Regions from separate parts of the Homo sapiens genome. Here all the other regions are linked to region 1. The links come from fine-mapping of genetic effects on gene expression. A gene starts in region 1. Each other region holds a variant in brackets. All regions are shown on one strand. Distances are between the middles of the regions. Region 1 holds the start of DCPS (decapping enzyme, scavenger). Region 2 overlaps KIRREL3 (kirre like nephrin family adhesion molecule 3). Region 3 has its middle 16 kb from the start of RPUSD4. Region 4 overlaps DCPS (decapping enzyme, scavenger). Region 5 overlaps FAM118B (family with sequence similarity 118 member B).

Evidence for each region. PIP is the estimated chance that this variant, and not a neighbour inherited with it, causes the effect. A credible set is the group of variants that fine-mapping cannot tell apart.
Region 2: its variant is the best candidate, but not a certain one, in a credible set for the expression of DCPS in transverse colon (GTEx, PIP 0.65).
Region 3: its variant is the best candidate, but not a certain one, in a credible set for the expression of DCPS in lymphoblastoid cells (TwinsUK, PIP 0.86).
Region 4: its variant is the best candidate, but not a certain one, in a credible set for the expression of DCPS in fibroblasts (GTEx, PIP 0.78).
Region 5: its variant is the best candidate, but not a certain one, in a credible set for the expression of DCPS in blood mononuclear cells (TOPMed, PIP 0.52).

What each region holds. Positions count from the first base shown.
Region 1 is chr11:126,300,525-126,305,885 of GRCh38, reverse strand. It overlaps DCPS (decapping enzyme, scavenger), which reads right to left and starts at 1,826. Exons shown (of 6, transcript NM_014026.6): 1 at 1,605-1,826. The coding sequence starts at 1,805. TIRAP-AS1 (TIRAP antisense RNA 1) reads left to right here and starts at 1,564. Exons shown (of 2, transcript NR_187388.1): 1 at 1,564-1,698. RefSeq lists an enhancer at 1-80 and a silencer at 1,739-1,868.
Region 2 is chr11:126,477,105-126,483,263 of GRCh38, reverse strand. All of the region lies in intron 4 of KIRREL3 (kirre like nephrin family adhesion molecule 3), which reads left to right. Among named protein-coding and RNA genes, the nearest start is that of KIRREL3-AS1, 64 kb to the left of the region's middle. RefSeq lists an enhancer at 3,865-4,366. The variant A/G (reference allele first, on the strand shown) is at 3,018.
Region 3 is chr11:126,192,354-126,198,512 of GRCh38, reverse strand. No RefSeq gene overlaps it. Among named protein-coding and RNA genes, the nearest start is that of RPUSD4, 16 kb to the left of the region's middle. The variant G/A (reference allele first, on the strand shown) is at 2,368.
Region 4 is chr11:126,330,898-126,337,056 of GRCh38, reverse strand. DCPS (decapping enzyme, scavenger) reads right to left here. Exons shown (of 6, transcript NM_014026.6): 3 at 5,507-5,652. Among named protein-coding and RNA genes, the nearest start is that of GSEC, 22 kb to the left of the region's middle. RefSeq lists enhancers at 1-67, 68-630, 1,778-2,279, 3,408-3,909. The variant C/T (reference allele first, on the strand shown) is at 3,041.
Region 5 is chr11:126,236,182-126,242,340 of GRCh38, reverse strand. It overlaps FAM118B (family with sequence similarity 118 member B), which reads right to left. Exons shown (of 9, transcript NM_024556.4): 4 at 1,297-1,549. It also overlaps a transcript of SRPRA not described here. Among named protein-coding and RNA genes, the nearest start is that of FAM118B, 27 kb to the right of the region's middle. The variant C/A (reference allele first, on the strand shown) is at 3,190.

The DNA of each region.
Region 1 (5,361 bases):
TCCCAAGTGACTCCTAGCTCGAAGGCTCTCATGACTAACACCTTCAACAGGTGCTGCACACTGAAGACAGCTGGGCTGAGAGAACCAGACAGAATCGCATACAAAAAAACAGAAAACAAGAAACAAAAACAAACAAACAAACAAACAAAAAACAACAAAAAACAAGGCCCAGCGCAGTCGCTCATGCCTATAATCCCAGCACTTTGGGAGGCAGAGGTGGGTGGATCACCTGAGGTCAGGAGTTCAAGACCAGCCTGGCCAACATGGTGAAACCCTGTCTCTACTAAAAATACGAAAATTAGCTGGGCATGGTGGCAGATGCCTGTAATCCCAGCTACTTGGGAGGCTGAGGCAGGAGAATCACTTGAATCCAGAAAGTGGAGGTTGCAGTGAGCCAAGATAGTGCCATTGCACTCCAGCCTGGACAAGAAGAGTGAAACTCCATCTCAAAAAAAAAAAAAAAAAAAAAAAAGGCGGGTGCGGTGGCTCACGCCTGTAATCCCAGCACTTTGGGAGGCAGAGGCAGGCGGATCACCTGAGGTCAGGAGTTCGAGACCAGCCTGGCCAACATGGTGAAACCCCCATCTCTACTAAAAATACAAAAATTAGCTGGGCATGGTGGCGGGGGCCTGTAATCCCAGCTATTGGGCAGGCTGAGGCAGGTAGAATAGCTTGAACTCGGGAGGCAGAGGTTGCAGTGAGCCGAGATCACATCACTGCACTCTAGCCTGGGTGACAGAGAGGAGAGACTCCGTCTCAAAAATAAATAAATAAATAAATAAAAATTTAAAAACCAGATACACACAGAGGCATGGAAGCCTAGGCCAAGGTTCCCTGATCCTCCCAAAGGTGAGAGTTCCTGCTAGTAGTTCTAGGGAACCCCCTTATCTGCCCTGGCTAGGCCTCCTCACTAGTTTCTGGGGAACCCCCATATCTGCTCTGGCTAGGCCTCCTCACTAGTTCCTGGAATGGTCTCCATCTCTCCTCAGCCCCTGCCAGATTGCTGAGCACGTTGGTATTGGAGCAAGCTGTGTGTATCTGTCTCGCCAGAAATATTCCGTAGTCCTGAAGATCAGGGATGGTAACTTTCGTCTCCACATCCCCAGTACCTAGTTTAGTGTCTGGCATGCATGAAAGTGCGTGCGTAGAACTGAATTAACAATTATAATATATTGTTCTCCTGTTACGGCTGAAGTCGCGTAAGGCAGAGATCACATCTCCTACAGTCTCATGTCGTTTCCACGGACAGGGATGAGCGAGACATCTAACATTGACTGGGTTCCTAGTCCCTGTATACATAAATGGATGATGAATGGCTTGGGGAATGTAACATGTGATCTTTAATCTGCAATGCACTCTCCCAGTAGATATTTCTAGTGGAGACATTAGAAAAATTAGAGCTAGATGTGTTCATTGCCTTAATTTCAAAGGCAATCTTGCCGCCTTTCACCGCCCCTCTATGCATTCTAGTGGCGCACTCCCGCCTCCCCGGAGTGATAATGATTGGTATTTTCCAGCCGAGATCCGAAAAAAAAAAATCTGCCTCCGAGGCGATGATTGGTTCACTGCTTCCCGCATCCCACCTCAGGGTTGCCTCCTGGTACCTTCCCGTGTAGGAAAATGATTTTGTCCCGCGCAGACTCCCTCAGCACCTTCTGCAGTCTGAAGCCGGAGAACGGTAAGCGGACAGGAGCACAGGTACCATTTCCAACTCCTGCCTCCTTTTCCTCTGTGCTGGCGGCGTGGGCCTCCTCCACGTCCAATTCGCGCTTCCTCTTGCCTAGTTGAGGAGCTGCGTCCGCCATGCTGCCGCGGAGGCGGTGTGCGCCTGCGCCCCCTGCGCTGGCCCCGCCCCTAGCCCGAGTCCAGCGGCCTGGCTGGGCTGCTAACTCCCGGCCTACCCTGCTCTGGCACCCGCTCCTGCGGGATGCGTGCCGCGCATGGCGGAGCCCGCTGACCTGTCCCAGGGCGCGCCTTTCAACCGAGTTACTGCCTTTGGCCCCGTTGTGGTGCCGGCCGGCCCTCAGGGAAGGGAAAAGAAGGCTGAGAGTCCCGAAAGCGGCGGGCTAGAGGTGGCTGCGCAGTGAAGAGGGACCCCCAGGCCCACGCCCCGGGGTGGGAGCCGAAGACGCCCTTGGGCCACGGTAGTGTTGGAGCCCTTGTTTGAATACTGACATTTTAATCATAGTTACACCGACGTTGACCAATTATCGGGGAAGCAACGTTTCTGACGCAAATCCGTGAGCCCATTTGATTCCTTGGTCGATTTTTTATACCGAGTATTTAAGCCATTTCCATTTTTCTCCCATTTTAATTACTTTGCAGAAATTTTCATCGTGGTCAGTTTTTTACTTTGTAGACTCAGTACTTTTCTGCTGACAAAAAAGGTAAACGAATATGGCCAGAAGAACCATCTCCACCACCCACTTATTTCCGGGCTAGAGGCATCCCCCTCCTCTCTATTTTGTTTACCTGTATTTCTGCCCTGCTACCCAGGGATATGATTTGCAGTATGATTCGTCTCCCAGGGTTTCGTTTCTCTTTTTTTTTTTTTTTTTTTTTTTTTTTGCCATATAAAATTATTACTTGTAACTTCTGCTGTTGAGGGTTTCTTTGGTGACCATTGTTTCTGGTTAGCCCGTTTTTCACTGGTGTTATTTAACAGATCTAAATTTTGTGAAGAGTTGGTACTTACGGACAGGCGCGGTGGCTCACGCCTGTAATTCCAGCACTTCGAGAGGTCGAGGTGGACGGATCACGAGGTTAAGATACCGAGACCATCCTGGCCAACATGGTGAAACCCCGTCTCTACTAAAAATACAAAAATTACCCGGGCGTGGTGGCCCGCGCCTGTAGTCCCAGCTACTCGGGAGGCTGAGGCAGGAAAATCGCTTGAACGCGGGCGGAGTATTGTAGTGAGCCGAGATCGCACCACTGCACTCCACCCTGGCGACAGAGCGAGACTACGTCTCAAAGAAAAAAAAAAAGAGTTGGTACTTACATCGCTTCAGTCAGCCACACATTTATTTTGCCAGTGATTTGAGTTTAGGTTTTCAGACAGATCTCATGGGTGTGGGACAGTTTTTGCCATTCTCAACGTTAGCAACAAGATGCAATTTACAGTCAGTTTTTGGTCAATAACAAAGTGTACCATGTGTTAGTTTGATTTTTGGATTACTTCTACCAGAAATATAGATTAGGAGTTGGATAAAAGACTACTTTAGGCCAGGCGCGGTGGCTCATGCCTGTAATCCCAGCACTTTGGGAGGCCGAGGTGGGCGGATCACGAGGTCAGGAGATCGAGACCATCCTGGCTAACGTGGTGAAACTCCGTCTCTACTAAAGATACAAAAAAATTAGCCAGGCGTGGTGGCGGGCGCCTGTAGTCCCAGCTACTTGGGAGGCTGAGGCAGGAGAATGGCGTGAACCCGGGAGGCGGAGCTTGCAGTTAGCTGAGATCGCGCCACTGCACTCCAGCCTGGGTGACAGAGCGAGACTCCATCTCAAAAAAAAAAAAAAAAAAAAAGGACTACTTTGTGTGTGTGTGTGTGTGTGTGTGTGATGCAGAAAGCATTATTAGGAGAGACTTAGGATCTGTCCCCCAGGCTGGAGTGCAATGGCGCGATCTCGGCTCACTGCAACCTCTGCCTCCAGGTTCAAGCGATTCTCCTGCCTCAACTTCCTGAGTAGCTGGTATTACAGGCGGCTGCTACCACTCCCGGCTAATTTTTTGTATTTTTAGTAGAGTCAGGGTTTCACCATGTTGGCCAGGCTGGTCTCGAACTCCTGACCTCGTGATCCGCCCGCCTGGGCCTCCCAAAGAGCTGGCATTACAGGCGTGAGCCACCGCACCCTGCCAAAGTAGCTATGTTTTAACAAAAAGAGCCCATAATTGAGAGCCATGAAGTCGGGCCCCAACACTGACTAGCTGTGCAACTTTGGAAAAGTCTCTTAACCTTTCCAGGTCTCCATTTTCCATGTGCCAGCGGCTATTAGTTCTAAGCAAGACAACGAGGCCTCTTCTTTCATAAAATGTATATTCAAATGGGGTACATGAGGTAAACAAGATAATGATTAAGAACTGTTTTTTGTTTTTTGTTTTTTGTTTTTTTTTGAGACGGAGTCTCCCTCTGTCGCCCAGGCTGGAGTGCAGTGGTGCGATCTCGGCTCACTGCAAGCTCCACCTCCCAGGTTCACGCCATTCTCCTGCCTCAGCCTCCCAAGTAGCTGGGACTACAGGGGCCTACCACCACGCCTGGCTAATTTTTTGTATTTTTAGTAGAGACGGGGTTTCACCGTGTTAGCCAGGATGGTCTCAATTTCCTGACCTCGTGATCTGCCCGCCTCAGCCTCCCAAAGTGCTGGGATTACAGGCGTGAGCCACCGTGCCCGGCCAAGTACTGTTAATAGGACAAAACTGGACAGTGTGAAAGAGCCTGGGGATAGGAGCCCCCCCCCCCCGCCCTTTTTTTTCTTTCTTTGAGACAGAGTCTCACTCTGTCACCCAGGCTGGAGTACAGTGGTGCAATCTTGGCTCACTGCAACCTTCACCTCCCAGGTTCAAGCGACTCTTCTGCCTCAGCCTTCTAAGTAGCTGGGATTACAGGCGTACACTAGCACACCTGGCCAATTTTTGTATTTTTAGTAGAGATGGGGTTTTGCCATGTTGGCCAGGCTGGTCTCAAACTCCTGACCTCAGGTGACCTGCCCATCTCCCAAAGTGTTGGGATTACAGGCATGAGCCACCATGCTCGGCCAAGCTCTTTAGATAAGATGATCATGGACAGCCTCTCAAAAGGTGACATTTGAGCTGAGACTTGAATGATGAGAAGGAACCAGCCATATCAGCCATATGAAGAGCCCAGGCACAGTAAATATTAGCTGTCAAAGGCCCTAGAGCAGTAATGTGCTTGACATTTTTAAAAAATAGGAATGACCGTGGGGCATGGTGGCTTACACCTGTAATCCCAGCACTTTGGGAGGCTGAGGTGGGCGGATCACTTCAGATCAGGAGCTCGAGACCAGCCTGGCCAACATGGTGAAACATAGTCTGTACTAAAAATACAAAAATTAGCTGGGTGTGGTGGTGTGCGCCTGTAATCCCAGCTACCTGGGAGGCTGAGGCAGGAGAATCACTTGAACTCAGGAGGTGCAGGTTGCAGTGAGCCAAGGTCGCGCCACTGCACTTCAACCTGGGTGACAGAGCAAGACTCTGTCTCAAAAGGAATGACCTGTGTAGCTAAAATATAATGAGCAAAATAGAAACATTTGAAATGAAATAGTAGAGAAATGTATTCATTAGCGGCAAAATTAATCAATATGGGTATAATTTTGATTAAAATATAAAACCAGAATTCTACT
Region 2 (6,159 bases), 180 kb before region 1:
AAAGAATGGGCAGTTGTGCAGAAATGTGATTGGACAAAAAAGGGGGTATGACCTCATGGTAACAAACCAGAAGAACTTAGCAAGGCCTTGCCTGCATTCCTCTTTGAGTTCCTGTACACCGTTTCTTTCCTCTGAGTATAGGGCAGGATCCCTCTGGAATGAGGATCTCATGACCTAGTTTCAGGGGAGATGGGTCAAAGAATTTTTTACAGCTAGCTCTCGCCCAGGAAGGCAGGGGATTGGAGAGTAAACTTTTTGCTTCTGCTGTTTTCTCAACTTCTAAGATGCGATATCTTGGAGTATTGTGTTCTGAATGCAGATACTGCATAATAAACCACTCCAAAACTGTGAGTCAGCAATCTGGGCTGAGCTCAGCTGAGATGGCTCATCTCTCTGCTCCACATGGGGCTCACATGTGCCTTTGCAGCCCATAAGCAGTGTGTGCCTCAGTTGGCACAGAATGTGGGGGGGCCCAGAGGGAGGGGATGCCAAGCCAGGCAGGGCAGCGTGGAATCACCCATGGGAGCAGCAGGGTCTTCACCCAGCTCCCAGCAGGGCAAAGCAGGGAAAAGGACATAGACCTCTGCTTTACCAAGGGGGCAATCTGGGACTTCTAAGTCCCAGCTCCCCTGCCCGTCTATCGCCTTTCAAAGGAATGAGCCCAGTCTGCTTAGAGAACCAATAACATGCCACATCATCCATCAGACCCTTTACAAAGCATTTTCTCATGTTACATCTTCCTTGACCCTGGCAACTATACAGTGAATCTGGTTTTGTTATTTTAATTCATATTTTACAAATAAGGACACTGAGGCACAGAGAAGCTAAGCAGTTTTCCCATGGCCACAAGCCAGTAAACATAGCACCCAGGATTCAAACCCAAGCTGCCCGACCTTCAAGTTAGCAAAGCAAAAGGAAAGGGGCAGGCCCGGCACGGTGGTTCATGCCTGTAATCCCAGCATTTTGGGAGACCAAGGCAGGTGGATCACCTGAGGTCAGGAGTTCGAGACCAGCCTAGCCAACATGGTGAAACTCCATCTCTACTAAAAATACAAAAATTAGCCAGGCATGATGGTGGGCACTTGTAATCCCAGCTACTCAGGAGGCTGAGGCAGGAGAATCACTTGAACCCAGGAGGCAGAGGTTGCAGTGAGCCGAGATCATGCCATTGCACTCCAGCCTGGGCAACAAGAGTGAAACTCTGTCTCAAAAAAGATAAATAAATAAAAAATGGAAAGGGGCAATTGGGGAAAAGCGATTTACTCCAACAAATGCAGGTGGCTCTTATCCACAAGGAGGAATTGAGGTAAGAAGTGATGAAAAGCAAGGCCGAAGAGTCAGCAGTGGCCAAGAAGTTCAGACTATTTAGATGGCAATGAGGGACTTTCAGAGGATTTGAAACAGAGGAATGCTAGACATTCAGCACATGGTGGGTGAATTACTGGTTGACTGGATAGGTGAATATTCAGACTTCTGTAACAGTCACTCTGGAAAAGCACAGAGGACTAGGAGATGGAGGGGAGAAGCACTATTGTAATCCAAGCACAAAAGGATGATGGCTGATCCAGGAAGCCTGTGGGAATGGAAAGAGACAAATCTGAGCGATACTTCAGAGGGTTAACCAGGCTAGTTGGCAAGACAGGGTGACTGAGAGTGGAATCCAGAAAGACCCCCAGATTTCTGACTTGGTCCCCAAACAGTGGGGCCATTCTCCAAAATACAGAATATGGGGATGGATGGGTGTCTGGGAGAGGCGGTGGGTGTGGTGTCACACCTGCTGAGCTTCGAAGGCCCGTGGACAGTTGGGTCATGACTCTGGAGCTCAAGAGAGAGGTCTGGCCTGAGATGCTTCTTTGGAATTCGTCAGCTTAAAGATGTGAGTTGAGTTCACAGAAAAGTGAAGGTTTTCCATTAGATAGTGTGTCAAATGAGATATGGCCAGCAAGAGCTAACTAGGGAAGACCAGCATTTAAGGGGTGGGAAGAAAACAAAAAGTAACAACCAGAGAGGAAGGAGAAAAGCCAGGAGGGAATCCCGGAGGCCAATTTAGGATGTATCTATTCCCTGCCCAGTGTTACTTTCCTTCTAGTACTTATCAACACCTAACCTTGTATTATGTATGTATTTGTGTATTCATTTATTGTCTGTCTCTCCCACTAGAAGGTAAACTCCACTAGGGCAGAAGCTTCTTGTCCCTAGTGTTTAGAAAGGGCCTGGCGTATAGTAGGTGCTCAATACGAATTTCTCCAAACATTGTTCGGCTACCACTGGGAAGCTGACTCTTAAAACCAGGTCAGCTCCCTCTTGTCTCTACATCCTGCAGTTCTCCATTGTGGCCATTAGGTGGCGCATCTGTATACGTGAGGAAACCGGAAGCTGGGATTACACGCGGCCCAGAACCAGAGAACCGGGCAAAACCACAAAAGGCAGCAAAGAGCTGGGCGGACTACAAACAACATTCGTCCGTTCCCTTAGCAGACATCGCCAAAGCACCAACTGCGAGCCAGGCTCATGCTTCCTGGGGCCCTCTGAAATTCAGACTGCGGGGAGGGAAGGGAGGAGAGTACCTGCCAGGTCTGAATGCCCCCTGGGACAGGCAGAGAGCCCGCTTCGCAGAGCTCTAGGGCCAGGACAAAGGCAGGGGTTAGTGGAAGGGCTGCTGCAGCTGCAGGGATAGTCTGGGAGCTGCTCTAACTCCAACAGAACATGTTGTAGGGTCAAAATCTCGAGTCTAAATTCCAACTTCACCACTTATGGCTGTGTGGTCTTTGCCAAGTAATTTGCCCTCTCTGAGTCTCAGCTTCTTAACCTATAAAATGAAGACCCTAATAGTCCCTGCCTCAAAAGATATTGAGAATAAAATGAGAGGACCTTGGCTCAGCACTTTTCACACAGCCACAAACCTAAATATTATTCCTAAAAATTAGACATAATAACCTACATTTGTATAGCCTTTTACAATGTTCTCTGTGTATCTTTCATATTGTAAGGTAATCCTCATGATAACCCTGCAAGAT[A/G]GGTATTTTTATTATCTCACTTCCCAGATAAGAGGATTAAGGTTGTCGGATTATATAACTTGTCTACAATCATATGGCTCATAAAGTGATCGACTCAAGTCAAGTTCAGCTCAGCAAATGCATATGCCACCCTGTGCCCTGTGCAGCAGGCAGGCACTCTGCTGGGAGATGGGGATCCGGATGGAGATCATGGTTCAGGGAAGAGACACACACAGAGAGATTTCCATAGGATGTGGTAGCTAGTGAGTCAGGGGATGCCCAGGATGCTGTGGGATCATAGACAGAAGCCCTATACACTTGGCCCAACTGGCAGATTCTAGAAAGGCCGCTCAGAGAGGGTGCCCTCTGAACTAAGTCTCAAAGGGTGTGTAAGAGTGACCCAGGAGAAGACCAGTGGTCCAGGAGAACGCCAGCATTCCAAGCTAAAGAAACGGCATACACAAAGGAAGCTGTTCTGAAACAAGATCGTGTAACTCCAAAGCTAGTAAGCAGGGAGCAGTCTGCCCCTTTCTCTGGCCGGCCCCGGGGGAGCGAAGGGAGCAGGCAGCCTGTGAAGGGATCAAGGGTCCCCACACGTGCTCTTTGTCCAGTGAGCCTTCCCTTCATAGCACTTGTCAGTTTGTCATGATTTCTACCTCGGAACCCTTAGAGCAGCGCTCCTCCAGCTTGAAAATGTATGTGAATTGTCTGGGGTCTTTTCAAAGGCAGATTTTGACTTAGGAGGTCTGAGGTGGAGCACAAGAGTCTGCTTTTCTAACAAGCTCCCAGGAGGTGCCAAGGCTGCACACATGTCCGTCTTGGGCACTGGCCTGGAGTGGCAAGGGCCTCCCCATCAGCTCTAAGATGGCAGGCCGTGTATGGCTTCACTCAGCTATCATAGCCTCAGCTTGTGACATGGAGGAGGCTGGTGAGAGAAAGGTTGGGAGGGAGGGAGGCAGGAGGGCAGGACACATGGCAGGCTGACTGCAGGGCTGCAGCGGGGAACCTGGGGATGGAGAAGATGCTGAAGGTGTGGGAGATGCACCCCGAGGCTTCGGCATCCTCCCTCCACTGTAGTCAGTGCTGGAACTCCTAGCACTGACTCTCCCAGAGCCCCTGGGTCTGCGGCAGAACAAAATCAAAGAACCCACAAACGTCCTTCTCCCCACTCAGCCAAGTGTCTCTGATCTGTCACCATGCTCGGCCTGCCGCCCTCTCCCATCCTATGTTCCAGACAAATCAGAGGACAGCAGCCACGGAGAAACAGGCTGAGAATCAGCTCCCAGCACCAAGCCCCCCTCAGCCAGGCTTCCCTCTCTCGAGGAGAGACAGGGAGCACCAACCCTGATGCCACAGCAGCGCAGAGTTCCTACAGCGCTGTCCCAGCTGGCCTCAGAAGGGCTCCTGCTTTGCCCTCCTCCCTCCCACTACTCACGCAGCCCGTTCCCAACTGTACCCAATGCACACACACATGCATGCACACACACAAACACACATATACACACACATATACACACACACACTTACATACACATGTATACACACACCCATACACATGTATACACACATGTACATCTACATGCACATACATACACATACATATATACATATACACATACATACACACATACACACGCATACACACATACACACATATACATGCATATACATATACACATACACACGTGTACACACATATATACACATACACACATATACACACATGTACACACATATATACACACACACATACACACACACAAGATTTAAAACGCTGACCTCAGAAGCCAAAGCCCATGATAACCGTCCCCCCGGCCCCATCCCCACTCCCCTTCTGAGATTCTTTTATTTAACAAATAATATATTCAACAAATATTTCTTTAGCGCCTACTGTGTGATACAGCAATATCACAATGACCAAGATAGATAAGGTCTTTGTTGTCCTTTCTAGAACGGTGACAGATAATAAATGAACCCAGTGATCCAGAAAGTGCAGGGGTGGGTAGTGGAGAGTCACTGAAGGGCTCTTGAAGCTGCACCTTCATTGACGGGAAGAGCCAGCAGAGTGAGGAACAGGAAAGAGCGTTACAGACAGAGAGGAGCAGGGCAAGCCCGGCCCCGGAAGGAGCTGGGTTTGCTGAGCAGCAGAGACGCAGTGGGGCCAGGGTCTGCTGTGTAAGGAGTGGTTGGAACAGACCGAGGCCCCAGGGGCAGCGAGGGCCGTAAGTGCTGGTGCTTGCAGGCAACACCTACTCTCCTTCAGCGGGAAGCCCCTGGAGGGTTTGGTGTTGGTGATAGACCCACTCTGCCAGCATTGTGGGGAACTCGCTGCTCATTGAGTCAAATGAGAACCAGTCTTGCTCTCCAAAGGGCTGGGTGTCTATGAGGTTCTCCACCATGCAGTATGGGGGCAGGAGGGTGGTGCTGCTGGTCCCCCACCCCTCCAGCTGCCACCGATCAGCCATGCTCAGAGACCAACCATCCCAGGCTGATGGAGCATCGAGGAATTCCTGGAAGCCCAGCCAGGTCTCAGTTGGGTGACCAAGTGGACACTGGAGGAAATTCCCTCAGTGCTGTCCTTGTCCTGGCACCAAGAGAGTTTTTCCAGCCTGCTCAGACGAGGCTGGCCAACCTGGCAAACTGTCTCTAAAAAAAGGGGAGTATAGAGGTTAGAGAGAACCTTAGTGCGTGAAATAGATGAAAGCTTTACCTCTCCAGTTACAGCCAGGATGTGCGTCCCAAGCCCACCCTCACCCTTCTTTGCTCTCGTCACTGGTAACTTTGGGTCAGCCTCTTGTGCTCTCTGGCCTCAATTTCCCTCTCCCCATGCCACCTGTCCACCCGAGACCCCATTGTCTTTGGCAGCAGAACTTGGGGAAAGCTTTTGGGGGCTCCCTCCCACACACAGGGAAAGGGACGGGTACCCCCACCGCCCACCCAAACAAGGCAAAGTCTGCAGAGCTGGGCAGGTAGGGGCAGAGCAGGGAGGGAGACTGAAGCTGCCTGCTCCAGTCCTGGCCAATGGGAGAGTAAACTGTAAAGAGCTCAGCATCCCGCGATGATGTGTTTCTTTCATAATCAATGCCCCAGGAGCCAGCTGGGTGCAGGAGTGTCGCTCAGCCACCCCCGGCTAAGGCCGCGCTGTGGCCTCTTAGGCTGGCTT
Region 3 (6,159 bases), 110 kb after region 1:
GAGGGAGAGCTGGGCCAACTTGGGAAGCCTCTACCTGTGTGCTGACGACTCGCTAGTCTGTCTCTGACCTTGATCTCCCCCTTGAGCTCCTTATCTTCACATCCATCTGCCTGTGATCGTCTCCCCTTGGGAGCTCCCTCTCCGGGCCTGTTGCTCCTGTCCTCTTACCTGCCTTAGTTTAGATGGCATCACCAGAGACCTGGGAATCACCCTTAACTCCTCCCTCGCACCAGTCCCCAAATCCAATTAGCCACTAATTCTTTGCCAGTTCCATCTAAAACCCTTCTCTTAAAATGCACTTCCCTCTTTAATTCTAATATCTCCTGAGCACCAATTTCACCGTCCCCACCCTTCAGCTATGATGGGATAGGTCTGGGAGGTGGAAGGGCATAGTGGGTTAGAAATAGGATCATAGGCAACCTGCTAGTTCCCACCAGAAACCAAACTCACAACGGGGTGTTGAGACCATCCCCAGGTTCCTGGGGATAGAGCAGTGTGGGAGGGGGTACCTGTTTTAAACAAGACAGGCAAATAGAGCAGCCTCCCACCATGTTTTCTAGGTCTGCTCTCCTTGGCTCTCTGGACTGCTTTTAGCCAGAGTGCCTGGTAGGATATACAAAAACATGGCCTCCTGCTTGTGCTTGTGCAAAGCATGCCATGTGGGTGCAGACAGCTTCTCCCAGTGCGGAGCAAAATCTGCTGGCTCAGGGCAATGTAATTCAAACACCAGCTACCCAGCGTTAGGCCAGATGTCACAAGTTAATGGCACATTCCACAGGACTTGCCTCACTTCAGACACCAGCTGCAAGCTCTGGGGTTTTCCAGCCACCTGTACTTCTGACCAACTAGCTATGAATTCAAGAGTGTTCACAAACCCCTCAGGTTTGATCATTCACTAGAATGACTCCCAGAACTCAGCAAAGCACTAGCTATGCTTACTATTATGGTTTTGCTGTAGCAATAAAATGATATGAATCAGGACCAGCTAAAAGAAGAGATGCATGGGCAAGGTCTGGGAGAGTCTCCAGCATGAAGCTACCGTGTCCTCTGCCCACCGTGTCACCCTCCCAACACATGGATGTGCATCACCAGCCAGGAATGTCACCCAAGCCCTGGTGTCCAGAGTTTTTATTGGGGTTTCATTATGTTGTCGTGGTTGAACAATTGGCTACATTGTTGAACTCGGTTCTGCTGGGTTCAAAGTGCCAACCCTCTAATCACATGGTCGGTCTTTTTGCATGGCCAGCCTGAAACTACCCATCCTGAAACTAAAGCCCCACCGTGAGTCCTCACATTTAATAGCGTAAACTATTAGGGCTCATCATGAATAACAAAAAATGTTAACATCACTTGGGAAATTCCAAGGATTTAGGTTCTCTCTCCCAGGAACCAAGGACGAAAGCAAGGCAAATTATTATAGAACTCTGAGTTTTCCTCTCCATCCCCCACTCCCTTAGGCGTCTCTTGATGTCCTCTCTTAGGGATCCCTTCATCTTGCTGTCCCCCAGCGAGTGACCAGCCTAGGTGGCTGTCTGCATAGATGCCCCTGTTGGTTGTGGCCTTAGGATCCTTTCAGGCAAGAAGCCTTGAGATATTTCTGTTCACTTCCCTCCTGGCACCTGCTGTGGAACACTGTCATCTGCTGCCATCCTTGCAGTGGGAAAGGGATTTTAATCAGGGGTGATTATACAGATGGGTGAAGTTCTTCTTTCCCAGGTATTTTCTTTTTTTTTCTTTTTTTTTTTTTTTGAGACGAAGTTTTGCTGTTGTCCCCAGGCTGGAGTGTGATGGCGTGATCTCAGCTCACTGCAACCTGCGCTCCCTGGGTTCAAGTGATTCTCCTGCTTCAGCCTCCCGAGTAGCTGGGATTACACGTGCCTGCCACCACACCTGGCTAATTTTTTGTATTTTTAGTAGAGACAGGGTTTCACCATGTTGGCCAGGCTGGTCTCAAATTCCTGACCTCAGGTGATCCGCCCGCCTCGGCCTTCCAAAGTGCTGGGATTACAGACGTGAGCCACTGTGCCCGGCCTTTCCCAGGTATTTTCACATGCTGTGAGGGCACGGCCATGGTGACTTGTACTTAGTCAGATACACCCCGAAGGCTCAGCTGGCCCCTGCCTTCTCACCACCGTCAAATCTGTCCACACACATGCCCCTACCTCCTAGATGTATCTGCATCCCGAACCCCTGCATTGTTCATATGATTTCTCAAGGACTAACCACCCTCCACACCTATTGGGCTGTTTGCCTACTCCTGGCTCACTCCATCAGACCTTCAGCAGAGGACTGCAGAATGCTTTGTCAGGAAACAGGAGTGTGGAGACCAGTGAGGCGGCTGACACGGTCCTCTATGCAACATGTGAC[G/A]GTGGCTTCCACTAAGCTGTCACTCCCCATTCCCACTCCCAGCCGTAGACAACTGCTAATCTATTTTCTGGAAATAGAAGGATTCTCATTTCCCTATAGATTTGCCTATTTTAGATGTTTCATACAAACAGAATGATAGAGTATGTGCTCCTTTGCCACTGGCTTCTTTGAGTTAGTGTCATGTGTCCAAGGTTCCTTCACAATGTAACATATGTCACTCTTTCACTTCTTTTTTTGTTGTTTTTGTTTTGAGACAGAGTCTCGCTCTGTGGCCCAGGCTGGAGTGCAGTGGCGTAATCTTGGTTCATTGCAACCTCCGCCTCCTGGGTTCAAGCGATTCTCGTGTCTCAGCTTCAAAAGTAGCTGGGATTACAGGCGTGTGCCACTATGCCCGGGTAATTTTTGTATTTTTAGTATAGACAGGGTTTTGCCACGTTGACCAGGCTGCTCTTGAATTCCAGGCCTCAAGTGATCCACCCACCTCGGCCTCCCAAAGTGCTGGGATTACAGGTGTGAGCCACAGCACCTGGCCAGTATTTTACTTCTTTATATTGCTGAATAATATTTCATTGTATTGATATACCAAATTTTGTTTATCGATTCATCAGTTGGTGGCTGTTTCCACTTTTTGACAATTGTGAATCACGCTGCTTTGAACATTCATGTATAAGCTTTTATGTGGATGTGTATTTTAACTTCTTGGGTACCTAACTAGGAGTGGAATTGCTGGGTCGTATGGCAACTCTGTTTCTAGAGCTGCCAGACTGTTTTCCAAAGGGGTTGCACCATTTTACATTCCCAGCAACAATGTATGAGGGGTCCAGTTTCTCACCAGCACTTGTTATTACCTATCTTTCTGATTACAGCCATCCTAGTGGATGTGAAGTGGTTTCTCACCGTGGTTTTGATTTGCATTTCACTAGTGGCTAATGATACTGAGCATCTTTTCATGTGTTTGGTGACTATACATCCTAAAGAAATATCTATGCAAATCTTTTGCCCATTTTTAAATTCAGTTATTTGCTTTTATTATTAATTTGTAGGAGTTCTTTATATATCCTGGATTCCACTTTTTTGTTTGTTTGAGACAGAGTTTCGCTCTTGTTGCCTGGGCTAGAGTGCAGTGGCGTGATCTCGGCTCACTGCAACCACCGCCTCCTGGGTTCAAGTGATTCTCCTGCCTCAGCCTCCCCAGTAGCTGGGTTTACAGGCATGCACCACCATGTTCAGCCAATTTTTGTATTTTTAGTAGAGATGGGGTTTCGCCATGCAGGCTGGTCTCAAACTCCTGACTTCAAGTGATCCGCCTGCTTTGGCCTCCCAAAGTGCTGAGATTACAGGCATGAGCCACTGCGCCCGGCCTGGATACCACTGTCTTATTAGAGGTATTGTCTGCAAATATTTTTTCCCTTTGTGTTGTCTTTTCACTTTCTTGATTATATTATTTGTAATAGGAAAGTTGTCGATTTTGATGTCCAATTTTTCCTTTTGTCGCTTGTGCTTTTGGTGTCATATCTAAGAAACCATCACCTAATACAAAGTCTTGGAGATTTCCTTCTGTTTTTTTTGTCTAAGAGTTTTCTAGATTTAGGTCTATAATCTTAAATCATTTCTGTGTGTGGTATAACGATGGTGTCCAATTTTGACTGGGTAGCCAGCCGTCCTAGCACCATTTGTTGAAGTCTGTTCTTTCCCAAGTGTAATTTTTTTGTAAGTTGTGATTTTTGATGGTTACACTGGGTCAAATATAGACAATTTCATAGGGTAAAATGTAGTTTTATTACTGTATTAATATGAACGCAGTAAAATGCATTTTCTAATGTTGCCACCGGATGGCAGCAGTACTCCAGCTTTTATCCCTCTCCAGGCTAAGCTGCTACAAAAAATGGGAACATGATTTAATCAAGTATGAAGTATCCCGCACAAGAGCCTTACCATCTTTTTCTAACCCCCTGATAACCCTCACCGTGGCTACTCCAGCGTTGTAAATCTCGGCCCCCTACTTTTTTAGCTAGCCTGACGCTGGGTTTTCTGTTCTCTCGTGTAGGGTGGAGTAGTAGGAGGTCATGTTTTGGGCTCTTTGAGTGAAGTTGAAATAGAATTTGATCCCTACACACTCAGTGAGAAGAGTGTTACATGTTCATTATAAAAATGTAGAAAATATAGTCAAGCTGTCCTCAACTACCCAAAAGCCTAATAGGAACAGGCATTTACCCACTACGTGAGTTCAGTGTAGCTAAACGTCAAGCATTCTTAGCTCTTTGCTGATTTAATTTTGGTTTAAGGTAGTAATAAGTTGCTATCTCTGCTGATCAGATGCACTAATTGATAGTTATGTACAATTTTCACTAAGCACAATCAGGTAAATGGATTATTTCCCTGCATTATTTACTAAATAGTGGAGAGAAAGTAAGAGAGTGACAGCTTGGATGCCTCTTCTACAATGATGTGTCTTCGACACGTAAGTGTGTGAGTGCCAGCCCCGGCTGTTCCCTTCATCCTCTGCTGTTCTTGGGTGACGAACTTCCCCAGGGCAGGCCTCACTCCTGCCATTCCTGCAGGATCCTCTGCCGCTCCCACGGCCTGTCTGACATGGACTGAGGGGTCCTCAGACCCCTTAGGTCTCTGCACATCTCACCTGCTGCGCCTGTGGGCCTCTGAACCCCAGCATCAGAGCTACCCGAGCACCCTCTTTCCCCAAGGCAAGCTAACCAGACTGTCCCAGGGAGCAGTGAGGGGGACCGAGAAGTGGGCAGCCAAGACAGCCTCCCATGCAGGGAGCCCACCGAGGCCCAGCTCCGACCTGGAGCCGCGTCCTCTTTCAGCAGGCTGGGAGCGATTACCATCTGTCCATCAGCAGCTTCAAGGAGCCAGTGATGACCTGGGCCATTCAGGGAGCCAGCCTGGGGGAAGGGGTTCCCGCTTTGATGTGCTCAGCGAGGTCAGAGAGCAAGCAGGGGGGAGGCCCACGGGGAGAGCGGCTGGCACTGTCTCCTCTCCCATCCAGGTTTCCGGGAAGACGCCAGCTTGTCCTCATCACCTCTTTCATCTCTCCGTTCTCTGGGGCTGGTTCTTGTCCTCTCGGGCCTCCCTGCCGCCCAGGTGGACAGCCTTGGGCCCCTCATCCCAGACCTCCAGCCTGTGTTCCGAGGAGCTTGTGGTGGCCAGACCCATCCACCCACTTTCTCTGTAGTTGGCTTTAAGGGGCATGTGGTCATCACTTCATGCATGCAACACCACTCTGAGGGTCAAGCGAGAATCTCCCCCTTGGAATCAGGGGCTCCCCATGCTGGAAGGGGACTCAGGCTGTGGGCATCACCCCCATGGTGGGATGCTCCAACTCCGTTGCTAACAGACAGCTGCCAAGCCTGGTCTCACTCACTCACAGCTGCCAGGGACTCACTGGCCACTGAAGGTGCCACCTTCATGGGAAAGAAGACAGAGGAAAAGAGAGGGTGGGAGCTGGAAGGTGGCAGGAGGACAGGGAGGGAGCGAGCCACTGTGCCCTGGGCTCTGTGCGGTCCTCCGAGCCTCTGTCTCACACCAGGGCCTCCTTCAAGCCGTGTCTGAAAGGCTGCCAGCCCGTCCTGGCCCTGCCGGGGAGTCTGGCCTTTTTCCTGCCTAAAGTTACAGAATTTTCCAGAAGTATCCTTGGGTTTATTTTCTGGAGTTATAAGCCAGATTTCCCTTGTCACCCTACTTCTCCAGCCTAGGAAAGAAAATTCCACGAGAGAAGGCAAGCAAGAGGCTTAGAGGGCCTGTGATCACAGCTGAGACTCACTCTTCCTTTCC
Region 4 (6,159 bases), 31 kb before region 1:
CCACACAACCTCACACCTTGAGCCTGGAGGGCTGAACACACTGCATTGCATCCTCGCCTCTCAGCTGGGATGGACCGGGGGAGAGGGCAGCTGGGCCTCGAGGTCTCCTGCAACTCTCTACCCACAGGAAGCATTTCAGCTCAGAGGGCCCCAAACCCCTGACAAGACCCACAGGCCGGTCACAATGTGGTCCATTCACAACAAAAGACAGGCAGTTCCCAAGAAACCGAATGAGGCCCCTTCCTGGGAGGGGTCTGGAGGACACCTGGCAGCCACTTCCTCATGCAGTGCCGGGGCCAGAGCAATGCATGGCCAGTACATCCACAGAGGCATTTCCTCTCTGACCTGAAATCTCCTGGGAATGTGATGCCAGAGGAAGCCAGCGGAAATACAAGGGAGGGAGGGAGACGGCATTCCCTACAGACAGCCCCAACGCACCCCATAAGCAGGCCTCCCCACGGCCAGTCCCTGATTCACAGAAAAGGGGCATCTGCCTGTGACTAGTATAAGAGTGAGAGTGAACAGGTTCTGAGCCAAGGAGACCTGGTTTCATCTCCCAGCTGTCACTGGGTGAGCGACTGATGCCTCCTTTGTAAAATGGGGCTGATGATATCTACATAAGGGTGGTGAAGGTTTTCAGAGAACACGCACATGAAAGCACCTAGCACAGCCAGTATAAGGGAGACCCCCACGAGTGGCAAAGGTGGTGGGATGGTATGCCAGAGGCTACAAAACTGACTGGGGACAGGAAAAGAGGGAAAGGCGGTGAGAGCAAAGGAGGTGGTGAGAGAGGAAATAAGAGCGGGGCTGGAGGACGAGTGACTGCAGGAAGGAGTGATGACTGTGAGAGCAGCTGCACTCTGCCTGGCACTGCTCTCAGCGTCACAGCAACCCTGAGAGGTGGCTGCTATCATTGTCGCCATTTTTTTTTTTTTTTTTTTGAGATGGAGTCTTGCTCTTTCGCCCAGACTAGAGTGCAGTGGCGTGATTTCGGCTCACTGCAACCTCCGCCTCCCAGGTTCAAGCGATTCTCTTGCCTCAGTAGCTGGGATTATAGGTGCCCACCACCACACCCGACTAATTTTTATATTTTTAGTAGAGACAGGTTTTTTTGTTGGTTTTTGTTTTTTGTTTTTTCTGAGACGGAGTTTCACACTTGGCTGGAATGCAATGGCGTGATCTCAGCTCACTGCAACCTCCACCTCCCAGGTTCAAGTGATTCTCCTGCCTCAGCCTCCCAAGAAGCTGGGATTACAGGCGTGTGCCACCACACCCAGCTAATTTTTGTATTTTTAGTAGAGATGGGTTGCGTCATGTTGGCCAGGCTGGTCTCAAACTCCTGACCTCAAGTGAACTGCCCACCTTGGCCCAAAGTGCTGGGATTACAGGCATAAGCCACCGCGCCTGGACATTGTCCCCATTTTACAGTTAAGAAGAATGCAAGTGCAAGGAAGTTCACGCTGGGTCAGCCAATTCCAACCATGAGTATCTGGCTCCTGAGCCTGCACCCTGGGCCAAGGTACATCCTGTCTCCTGGGAGAGGCCTCTGGGACAGTGGCAGGGAGCTGCATCCACGGGAAGCCTCCAGGCCAGGGGCCCAGATAAAAAAAAAGGAGAATGAAAGAACAAAATTCACACAAACACAGAGAGCTATGTAATGGGGAGTGCCACCATCTGAAACCATGCCCAAGAACTTGGCCAGCCCTGCTGATAAACTGGGCAGAGGGTGATGCCATCAGCTTTCTGCAACTCACCTGGCTGGACTTCTTTGCAGTAGGTGACATTGGCAGCTCCCTCGGTACCCTCTCTCCCGCCTTGACCTCCCGTGAGACATCTTGCTCCTTCCTCATCACCTCCTGCTCTCTGCTTCTGCCTGCTGCCTTGCACTTCCCCTCCAGCCATGTGTGGCCTGGCCACGTCTCCCAGGTGTCTTAGCTCTGCCCATTGCTGTGCCTGTCCCTCTGAACAGTTACCTAGAGTAGGGGATGGTGGCTGCCATCCTGGCATCATTCTGTGCTGGAAACAATAGCAGGCACATGATATATGGCACCTCTCTCAATTTCCACAACACCCAGGAGGGAGGAGCCATTAGTTACATTTTTCAGACAAGGAAACCAGGGCTCCGAAATTAAGGACAATGTCACGCTGCTCTTAGATGACAGACTGAGAATCCAAACACCAGGCTGAGGTTGAAGTCTAGCTGGATGACTCACAAACAGACATTTGTAACTAGATGATCTCAAAGGCTCCAGATCCAGACATCCCACTGCAGTTTTTACTGGGAAGTTATAAGTACCTCACATCTAAGGAGCCAAATAGTATCTCTGGCTTAGGGCACAGATACTGGGACCAGACTGCCTGGCTTTGAGACCTGTCTCCAAAAGGGCTGCTGTGAAGAATAAATGAGGTGTGAGGCTGGGTGCGGTGGCTCACACCTGTAATCCCAGCACTTTGGGAGGCCAAGGTGGGCAGGTCACTTGAGGTCAGGAGTTTGAGACCAGCCTGGCCAACATGGTGAAACTCCGTCTCTACTAAAAATACAAAAATTAGCCCAGCATAGTGGCGGGCGCCTGTAATCCCAGCTACTTGGGAGGGTGAGACAGGAGAATCACTTGAACCTGGCAGGAGAAGGTTGCAGTGAGCCGAGATCACACCATTGCACTCCAGCTTGGGCAACAAGAGTGAAACTCCATCTCAAAAATAAATAAATAATAAATAAATAAATAAATGAGGTGTGATGCGCATAAATGCTTAGAGCAGTTCTTGGACTATACATAGTAAGTGCTCAATGAATTCCAAACTGAACTCACTGTCTTCCATGCAAACCCACTCTTCTGTTTCTGTCCCCTATACTGGGTCATGAATTATCCTTCTATCCACTCATCACCCAACCTCTTCCCTCCCCTCTGCACGTCAATCAGTTGCTAAGCCCCATCCAGCCCTGTGAAGACCTACCTCTTAAATTGCTCCAGAATCCTTCCCCACTGTCCCTACCTTGGTTCAGACCCATACTGGTTTTTCCCAGTCTTCCTGTTCTATG[C/T]TCACCCCCACTCCACCAATTAATTCTGCAAATCGGGCCATATCATCCACATGCTTAAAACCGTTTAGGGCACCCTCACTGCCTATGGCAACTGTTCTCACATCTGATGGTTGTCAGAAATATCAGAGAGAGAGAGAGAGAGAGAGAGAGAATTCCCAGCTCCACTCCCTGAAGCGTGAGATTCAGCAGATATGGAATAGTGCTCTGTGCTCGGTATTTATGAAAACCCCCAGGCAATCCTGATGGTAAGCAAGGTTCAGGAACTCCTGGCCCCCTGGACAAAGTCCACGTGCCTCCGCCTGGCCCCTGCCTACCATCTCAGTGCTGTCTCCTCTGACCCTCCAGCAGCCCAAGCCCCAGTCACACCAAACTCCTTGCAGCTCCCCCAAAGCATCGGATGATTCCAGCTCTGTGTGCCTCTGGACTTGCTCCTCCCTCCCCTTGTGCACCTGGTAAACTTCTATTTGTCCTGTAAGACCCAAGGGGAGGATCCTCTCCCTGTGAAGTCCCAACTGTCTGCGCTGGTCACTGTCCCTCTGCATCACCACGGTAGTTCGTCTAGGCATCAGAGTGCTTATCCCATTGTCACAATTGCCCGTTTACAAGTCTATCTTCCCTGTTACACTGTGAAGATCCTGTCTAGGTTTCATCATCTTGGTGACTCTCCAAAGCCTGGCATAGGACCAGGTCCATAGTAGGTACTCAGTAAACATAATGAGTGTTGCCAGTTAAGCTGAGTGCTTGTAAACTAGAAATAGCCAAGAAGGAATACATGAACGGCTCCCGTCAGTCAGGAGTTGGAAGAGTAGTGGAGTTTTCATTGTGCTCTTCTCCGAATGGAACTGCATAATGGTATATAATAAGGAATATACATGGCCAGGCACAGTGGCTCACACCTGTAATCCTAGCACTTTGGGAGGCCAAGACAGGCGGACTGCCTGAGCTCAGGAGTTCGAGGCCAGCCTGAGCAACATGGCAAAACCCCATCTCTACTAAAAATACAAAAAAGTAGCCAGGCATGGTGGCAAGCACCTGTAATCCCAGCTACTCACACCAACCACATCAGGGCTTCCTTACTTGAATCTCAGGTCTGCACAACCAGCACAACAGAACAACTGTTCCAGGAGATTCCCTAGGACCCTGAACAGCAGAAACTCTAAGAAGGTGGAGATATAGTTCCTTTTCACTTGGAAAACAGAACAAGTGCTGGGACTTTAAAAACAAACAAACAAACAACAACAACAACAACAAACAAGTCAGCTTGAGCCAGATGCACCCCACGCAAACTGCTGCCCAGGGAGACCAGGGCTGAACCAGGCTGGGGAAGGGGGCTGGCGGCACACAGGTCTCCCAAGGAAACTTCATTCCTGCAGGCCCTGTCAGCCTCCCTTTCCTTACTCCTGTCAAGTACAATTCACCTTGCAGTGCCCACACACACAGCGTACCCTCCCTTCTTCTGGGCCAGGGAGGAGTGGCTGTGAGTTCCTCACATCACAACACCCTCCACCACAGTGACCTGAATCTTGGGGAGAAAAGTGAGAAATGCTCGAAGAGAACAAGGGTGAGTGATAAAGACAAGGCACAGTGTCAGAGTCAGTGAGTGGGCAAGAAACTGACTCATCAATAAGCATCAGTCATATTTAACTCTGAGTACTCACATGGGGCCAGTTCCAGGCAGAGGCTCCAGTTGGCGCTGGGCCTAGGCCCAGGGAGGAGTCAGGATCTTGGAGCTAAATGGCCTTGCATCTGGCCTGGCCAGACGACTGCCAGCTTGTGAATGGAGTCCCTGCACCAAATCCCCGGGGCCAATGGGGTCCTGCCTTCTTTTGGACGAATGCAAGGGGGAGTCGGTGAGGGAAGAGTTTTTCCTCTGAGACTGAGATCCTGCAGGCCGGTTTGCCGCAGGTGAAACCAGGAATAAGAGTCTGGACAGGGTGGGACTCACTCAACATCAGCCTTTTACCCATTCATGGACCCAAAGCAATGGCACAGTCATCCCGAGGCTGGATCAAGGCTACTGCAGAGCAGACACACATTCTTCCAAAGGACTGGATTGCTTTGAGGTCCCCAGAGAGCCTCCATGGCATGCCCAAGCACATCAGGTGGGACCAAGACCAGCATCAGTTCCCCCACCCCCAAAGCCTTCTCTCGCCATGCGATATAAAATGGCAATTGCCCGCCCCAGGCCTTCTGGTCCCACTTATCCTGTCTATTTCTCTCTGCAGCCCTCATTATCTCACAGAGCACATAGATCCTGAGATATCTGTGTATGGTCACACACCGTGTGACTGTGCATGGGATGTAAGCTGCACGAGGTGGGGATTCTGTCCGCCATGCTCTCTACTGTACCCCCATCCCCTCGCCCAGCACAGCGCCTGGCCCCTAATATGACCCCAATAGACACTCGTAAGAGGAGGCACCAGCCACGGGAGCAGTGCTCTGCGTCTGAGACATGCAGCCAGTCACCTGGATGCTGAGGCTCTGGGACTCCAGGTGGGGTAAAGTAATATTCCTGTAGTCATCTCCCGTCTCTCGGATCAGGCGGAGGTCCTGGCGCAGGTACTTCTGCAGGTGTTTCTCTGTGGCAGGGTAAACCACGGTCGTCTTTACATCTGCAATGATACAGCACAGCCCGTGACAGGGAAGCAATGCCCACTCTCTATGCCACAGGCACCACGGTGAGGAGAGAACTCCCACCCTGGCTTTGATTCCCTGAGGGAAGCCAAAATCCAAGAGGATCATGCACCCAAGATCCACTCCCACAGAGTGCCTTGTGCCACTGCATTCACGAGCTGAGCCACACTCAGAATCTGGAAAACACAAGGTTCTTACCTGTGGGTCACTGGGCCCCTCATCAGGCAAACCCCAGCCCTTCCTGCTCCATCTTCCAGGCACAGGAATGAGAGGTCTCTAACTCTTCTCACATACCAAATTTCTAGGTATGTGGCTTTCTGGACCCAAAGCTGAAAATATGGCTTAAAGGCCGGGCGCAGTGGCTGACGCCTGTAATCCCAGCACTTTGGGAGGCCGAGGCAGGCGGATCACCTGAGGTCAGGAGTTCGAGACCAGCCTGACCAACGTGGAGAAACCCCATCTCTACTAAAGATACAAAATTAACC
Region 5 (6,159 bases), 64 kb after region 1:
TGGGATTATAGGCATGAGCCACCATCCCCGGCTCACTTTCTTGACAGTGTCCTTTCAGCCTAACAGTTTTTAACTTTGGAGAAGTCCAGTTTATCTATATTTTTTTTTACTTTAGTTTTTTGCATTTTTGGTGTCATGTCTAAAAAACCACTGCCAGATCCAGTCATGAAATTTTAAATCTGTATTTTCTTCTAAGAGTTTTACAGTTTTAGGTATCATATTTAGGTCTTTGATCCATTTTTAATTTTTATAAAGTGTATGGAGATTCCATGAACTCTTTAAAACCCCATTAATTCCTTTTTTTTTTTTTTTTTTTGAGACGGAGTCTTCCTCTGTCGCCCAGGCTGGAGTGCAGTGGCGCGACCGCAACTCAGTGCAACCTCCACCTCCCGGGTTCAAGCCATTCTCCTGCCTCAGCCTCCTGAGCAGCTGGGATTACAGGTGCCCACCACGCCTGGCCCTAGAAGCCTGATTTTTAAGATTTTAAAACAGGCTGGGTGCAGTGGCTCATGCCTATAATCCCAGCACTTTGTGAGGCTGAGGTGGGCAGATCACTTGAGGTCAGAAGTTCGAGACCAGCTTGACCAACATGGCAAAACCCTGTCTCTACTAAAAATACAAAAATTAGCTGGGCATGGTGGCACATGCCTGTAATCCCACCTACTCAGGAGGCTGAGACAGGAGAATCGCTTGAACCCAGGAGGCGGAGGCTGCCATGAGGCGAGATCGAACCACTGAACTTCAGCCTGGGTGACAAGAAGAAGATTCCATCAAAAAATAAATAAATAAATAAATAAATTTTCAGACAAAGCAAGACAGGGAGTCCTTTTATCCAACTCAGTTTGGTAAAATAAGGTGCAATTCCTTCTAAATATTTTGACTTATTACCTCTAAAAAGAACACTAAAAACTGGTTTTGTTTCATGTATAAAATGATAAAATTATCTCCAATCTTTGTGGGATTCCATACAAGGCATGGATGCCACAGAACACAGCTTTTATAGTAGTGATGCAGGAAAAAAATAAATTCAAAACACAGTGGTAATTTGTACATATAAAGTCCTCAACATCATTTCTCTCTCATAGACACACAGTGAAATGGGGTTAAGACAACTGTCCTGAGTAGGGTCCATAAACAGACATTGCGCAGAAGAGTCAAATGTTATGGAAACCTACAAGCTGTAAATGAATATCCCTGTTACATTTGGCATGCTAGTTTTGACAGCCAAATCATGCTAGTTGTGATAGTTAAATTTTAGGAAATTCCAAATACTGTGGCACATACTAGGGTACTCACAGGAGAGAGTTTCTGGATAAGGTCATGGGCAACATGGACCAGGTTCTTGTCTTCATGGAGACATTTCTGAAACTTTTTGCTCTCCTCATCTTCTAAAAGATCAAAATCAATGGCAGCATCCAGTAAGGCCTGAATTAACCCCTTCCAGGATTTGAGGGCTGGAACTTGGGGCGCAACTGCAGCACTAATGCCTGTTCCAATCACTAGCACAAGTTCTCGAGGCTTCTTAGTTTTTAAGCTTGGAAGCAGCTTCCTATAAAAGCAAAACAAATGAGAGGATTGGAATATCCAATAGATATGAGGCACACAGAAAGACTGTCTGACTCAGGTTACAGTTTTTAGCTAACTTTTATAGTTGCAAAGAAGATGAACAGCAGTTTTTGACACCTTTCCAAAGCAGTTTAAAGAAAACAACCAGAATATTGTGTCAGTGCTTGCTGAAAAACAAGTCATAAACCTATTTCAGGAATCCCAAAACCAATCTTAAAATCAGTTTTCCCTTCCTAGTCCTCTCAACCTAAGAAATTCCACTAATATTAGGAAAAGATCCAAATAGACTATAGCTCAGCTGACTTCTGCCAACTAAATTATATTTTAAACCAGTATTAAATTTCAAAAGAAGACGTTTGATTTGTACTCTAGAAAAAGAGAAAAGAACCCCAGGACAAATTAAGTTCCTATTATTGAGAAATGTAAAACACTAGGGGAAAGGCAATACAAAATTTAATTCTGAATTTTGTAAACATTAACCTCAGGCAAAAAAAAAAAAGAAAAAAAAAGTGGCCAATAGAATTCTGAAAACACAGGGGCCCTACATACCTAAATAAAGACATTAACTAATCAAAGGACATGACAAAAAGTGAAAAACATTCCTTTCTTACCATGATAAGCAGAGACAGACTTCTCTGTTCTGAGGCCCATATGTGAGACAGCATGGGTGCTAATTTTTGTTTTTGTTCCCCTCTCTTTCATTCTGGAGACTATCCCTGCTTGAAATATGTTCCTTCACATTAATTTTTGCTGATGGCATGTTCCCCTCCCCTGAAAATGGCTTCTCCCCAACCTTTTTGTCTAAATAATAAAATGGAGAGGATCAGCATTTTGGCATAACTCAAGAAAGGAATAGCACTTTCAAGCCTTGGGAAACCTGGTTTTGGGGACACAGCCTCTAAAACTGCTTTCCCTAACCCGAGCTTCTGCATTCAGTCATTCAACAAATATGAAAAACCGAGGCCAGGAGCAGTGGCTCACGCCTGTAATCCCAGCACTTTGGGGGGCCAAGGTGGGCTGATTACTTGAGGTCAGGAGTTCAAGACCAGCCTGGCCAACATGGTGAAACTCTGTGTCTACTAAAAATACAAAAATTAGCTGGGTCTGGTGGCGCACACCTGTAGTCCCAGCTACTAGGGAGGCTGAGGCAGGAAAGGAAAACCTGTATGTACCAGACACTACGGGAGTCATGTATCCATGAACAAAATGGAGTCCCTGATCTTGAAAGATCAGTCTACTAGAAAAGACATTAATAATAGATGTTAGAAGCAAATGATGAAAAATGAGTTTCAGTTCAGAGCAATCAAGATAGTGAAGCATACACAAATCCACATAAACAAATATACACACACATAGAAAATTTCTAGGATTCACAAGATGTATAAATAGTGGTTAAATGGGGATAGCAGAGAATAAGGACTTTTTACTTTTCATTTTATACTGTTGTACTGTATTTTTTTATATAACATACAGATTTGAACTATAATTCTTCCTAATTAAGACTTCCAATTTGGCTAAGTGCAGTGGTTCATGCCTGTAATCTCAGCACTTTAGGAGGCTGAGCTTGAGCCCAGGAGTTTGAGACAAGCCTAGGCAACTTAGTGAGACCCCATCTCTGCCAAA[C/A]AAAGAAAGAACGAAAAAGAAAATTAGGCACGTCTGTAGTCCCAGCTACCTGGGAGGCTAAGTTCACGGGAGGATCACGTGAGCCCAGGAGGCTGAGGTTGCAGTGAGCTGTGTTTGTGCCACTGCACTCCAGCCTGGGTGACAGAACAAGACCTTGTCTCGAAAAAAAAAAAAAAAAAGACTTCCACTTAAAAATAAAACATTTAACAATTGTGTTTTATTACTGGTTCTTTGTAAACCACCAAATAATAGTTACTTTTTTTTTTTAGCGGGTATATATACCTAAAAAGTAGGCTAGGTAAAGATGACAGCAGACAACAGAGGTCAAAGGGCAACAACATTTTACCAATTGTAATGCAAAGGCCGATTCCCTTGGTAGAATTTTGGGAATGTTCATGTACATCTAAAGGTAGAGGGGCTGGTGGGGCTAAAATAGGAGAATCAGTTACAAGCCTTTAACAGTTACAACTTTCAGCAGGCTAGAGGTTTCCCTTCTGCAGAGGTTGACCAGAGGACTATATCTGAGAACACTGCACACAGCTGAGGGTGGGGATTAAGTAAAAGTCTGTATATAAAATACAAGATTTCCCCCAACTCTCTTTCCCCAGAGGAAGCTTTTCAGACTCTAGGAATCAACTCTGTACCTGCACCCCTATCCCCCATCCAGTTAGGAAATGAGGACGATTCCTCTTTCAGGAAAATGGCCAGTATGAGATGAAAAACCTGCAGATTCTGACAGGTGGGAATTCCTTAACTCTACATAGAGTCTGGGACCAAGCCCCTTATGTACACACAGATTCTCCAACTGGCTTTTTTTTTTGAGATGGAATCTCGTAATCTTGGCTCACTGCAACCTCTGCCTCCTGGGTTCAAGTGATTCTCTTGCTTCAGCCTCCCGAGTAGCTGGGATTACAGGCACGTGCCACCACACCCAGCCAATTTTTGTATTTTTAGTAGAGACGGGGTTTCACCAGGTTGGCCAGGCTGGTCTCAAACTCCTGACCTCAAGTGATCCGCCTGCCTTGGCCTCCCAAAGTGCTGGGATTACAGGCGTGAGCCACCGCACCCGGCCTCTTCCATTGGCTTTTTGGTGTTTTCTGTTAAAAATGGGCAGACAAACAAGGGTCACCTCACATCTGAGGAAAGCCCCCAACATAACAGTTATACCAAACAAACTAGCAGGTAGAGAGAAATCTGAAGGAAATAAGAGATAGTATGGGAAGGAGAAAAAAAAATTAAAAGAAAACAATGATATCCTCACATATATTTTTTCTTTTCTTTTTTTTTTTTTTTTTGGAGACGGAGTCTAGCTTTGTTGCCAGGCTGGAGTGCAGTGACACAATCTCAGCTCACTGCAACCTCCGCCTCCCAGGTTCAAGTGATTCTCCTGCCTCAGCCTCCCGAGTAGCTGGGATTACAGGCACGCGCCACCACGCCCCGCTAATTTTTTTTTTTTTTTTTTTTTTTTTTTAGTAGAGACAGGGTTTCACTATGTTACCCAGGTACCCAGGATGGTCTCGATCTCCTGACCTCACGATCTGCCCACCTCAGCCTCCCAAAGTGCTGGGATGACAGGCGTGAGCCACCGAGCCTGGCCTAGATTTTTTTAAAATTGGCCAGGTGGGGTGGCTCACGCCTGTCATCCCAGCACTTTGGGAGGCCAAGGCAGGTGGATCACTTGAGGTCAGGAGTTTGAGATCAGCCTGGTCAACATGGTGAAAACCTGTCTTTATTTAAAAAATAAATAAATAAATAAAATAAAAATTAGCCAGGTGTGGTAGAGCACGTTTGTAATCCCAGCTACTCAGGAGGCTGAGGCAGGAGAATTGCTTGAACCCGGGAGGCAGAGGTTGCAGTGAGCTGAGATTGCACCATTGCACTCCAGCCTGGGCAACAGAGCGAGACTCCATCTCAAAAAAAAAAAAAAAAAAAAAAAGGCCAGGCGCGGTGGCTCACGTCTGTAATCCCTGCACTTTAGGAGGCTGAGGCAGGTGGATCATGAGGTCAGGAGATTAAGGCCATCCTGGCTAACACAGTGAAATCCCGTCTCTACTAAAAATACAAAAAATTAGCCGGGCATGGTGGCGGGCGCCTGTAGTCCCAGCTACTCGGGAGGCTGAGGCAGGAGAATGGTGTGAACCCGGGAGGCAGAGCTTGCAATGAGCCGAGATAGTGTCACTGCACTCCAGCCTGGGAGACAGTGAGACTCTGTCTAAAAAAAAAAAAAAAAAAAAGCATCTGTGAAACATAAACAGAGTGCTATGAAAAAATGAACAAACAAAAAGACTTCATAAATCAAAAATAACGCAACAGAAATTTTTAAATCCACAAGATAAAACAGAGAACCCCCGAGAAAGCTAAATTTAAGAAAACGAAATGGGGGGGAAAAAAATAAAGCAACACATAAAAAATTAGAGACTTAATACAAGAAGTCCAACATCTGAATAACAAGAGTTTTAAAAAAATGTGGAATAGAAAAAACATTGTAATGGAAAGTATCAAAAAAGTAATATAAGTCAACTTCTCCAAAGTGAAGGTACTAGTTGCCAGCTTTAAAGAGCTGCCCGGTGTCTAGATTCATATGACAAGATACATCACTGTGAAATTTCAGGTTACTGAGAATAAAATAATGATCCTTATAAGCTTCTAATGAACAACAACAACAACAAAAATGAAACAAAACAAAACAAAAAACAGGGAAAGAGGTCATACAATACAAAGGATTGGGAATCAGAACAGAGTGGCTATTTTGGCAGGAATACTTAGATGTTAGCAGAGTATGAATGAGAGATACTAAAAATTCTATACTCAGTCAAACCATCAAATGAATGTAAGTGTATGATAAAGACCTTTTCAAATATGTCCAAATAATTTTCTCCTATGGGTCCTTACTTAGGAGGCTATGCAAGGACATGCTTCAGGAAAACAAAGGCGTGCACCAAAAAAGAGGACATGAGATCCAGCAAACAG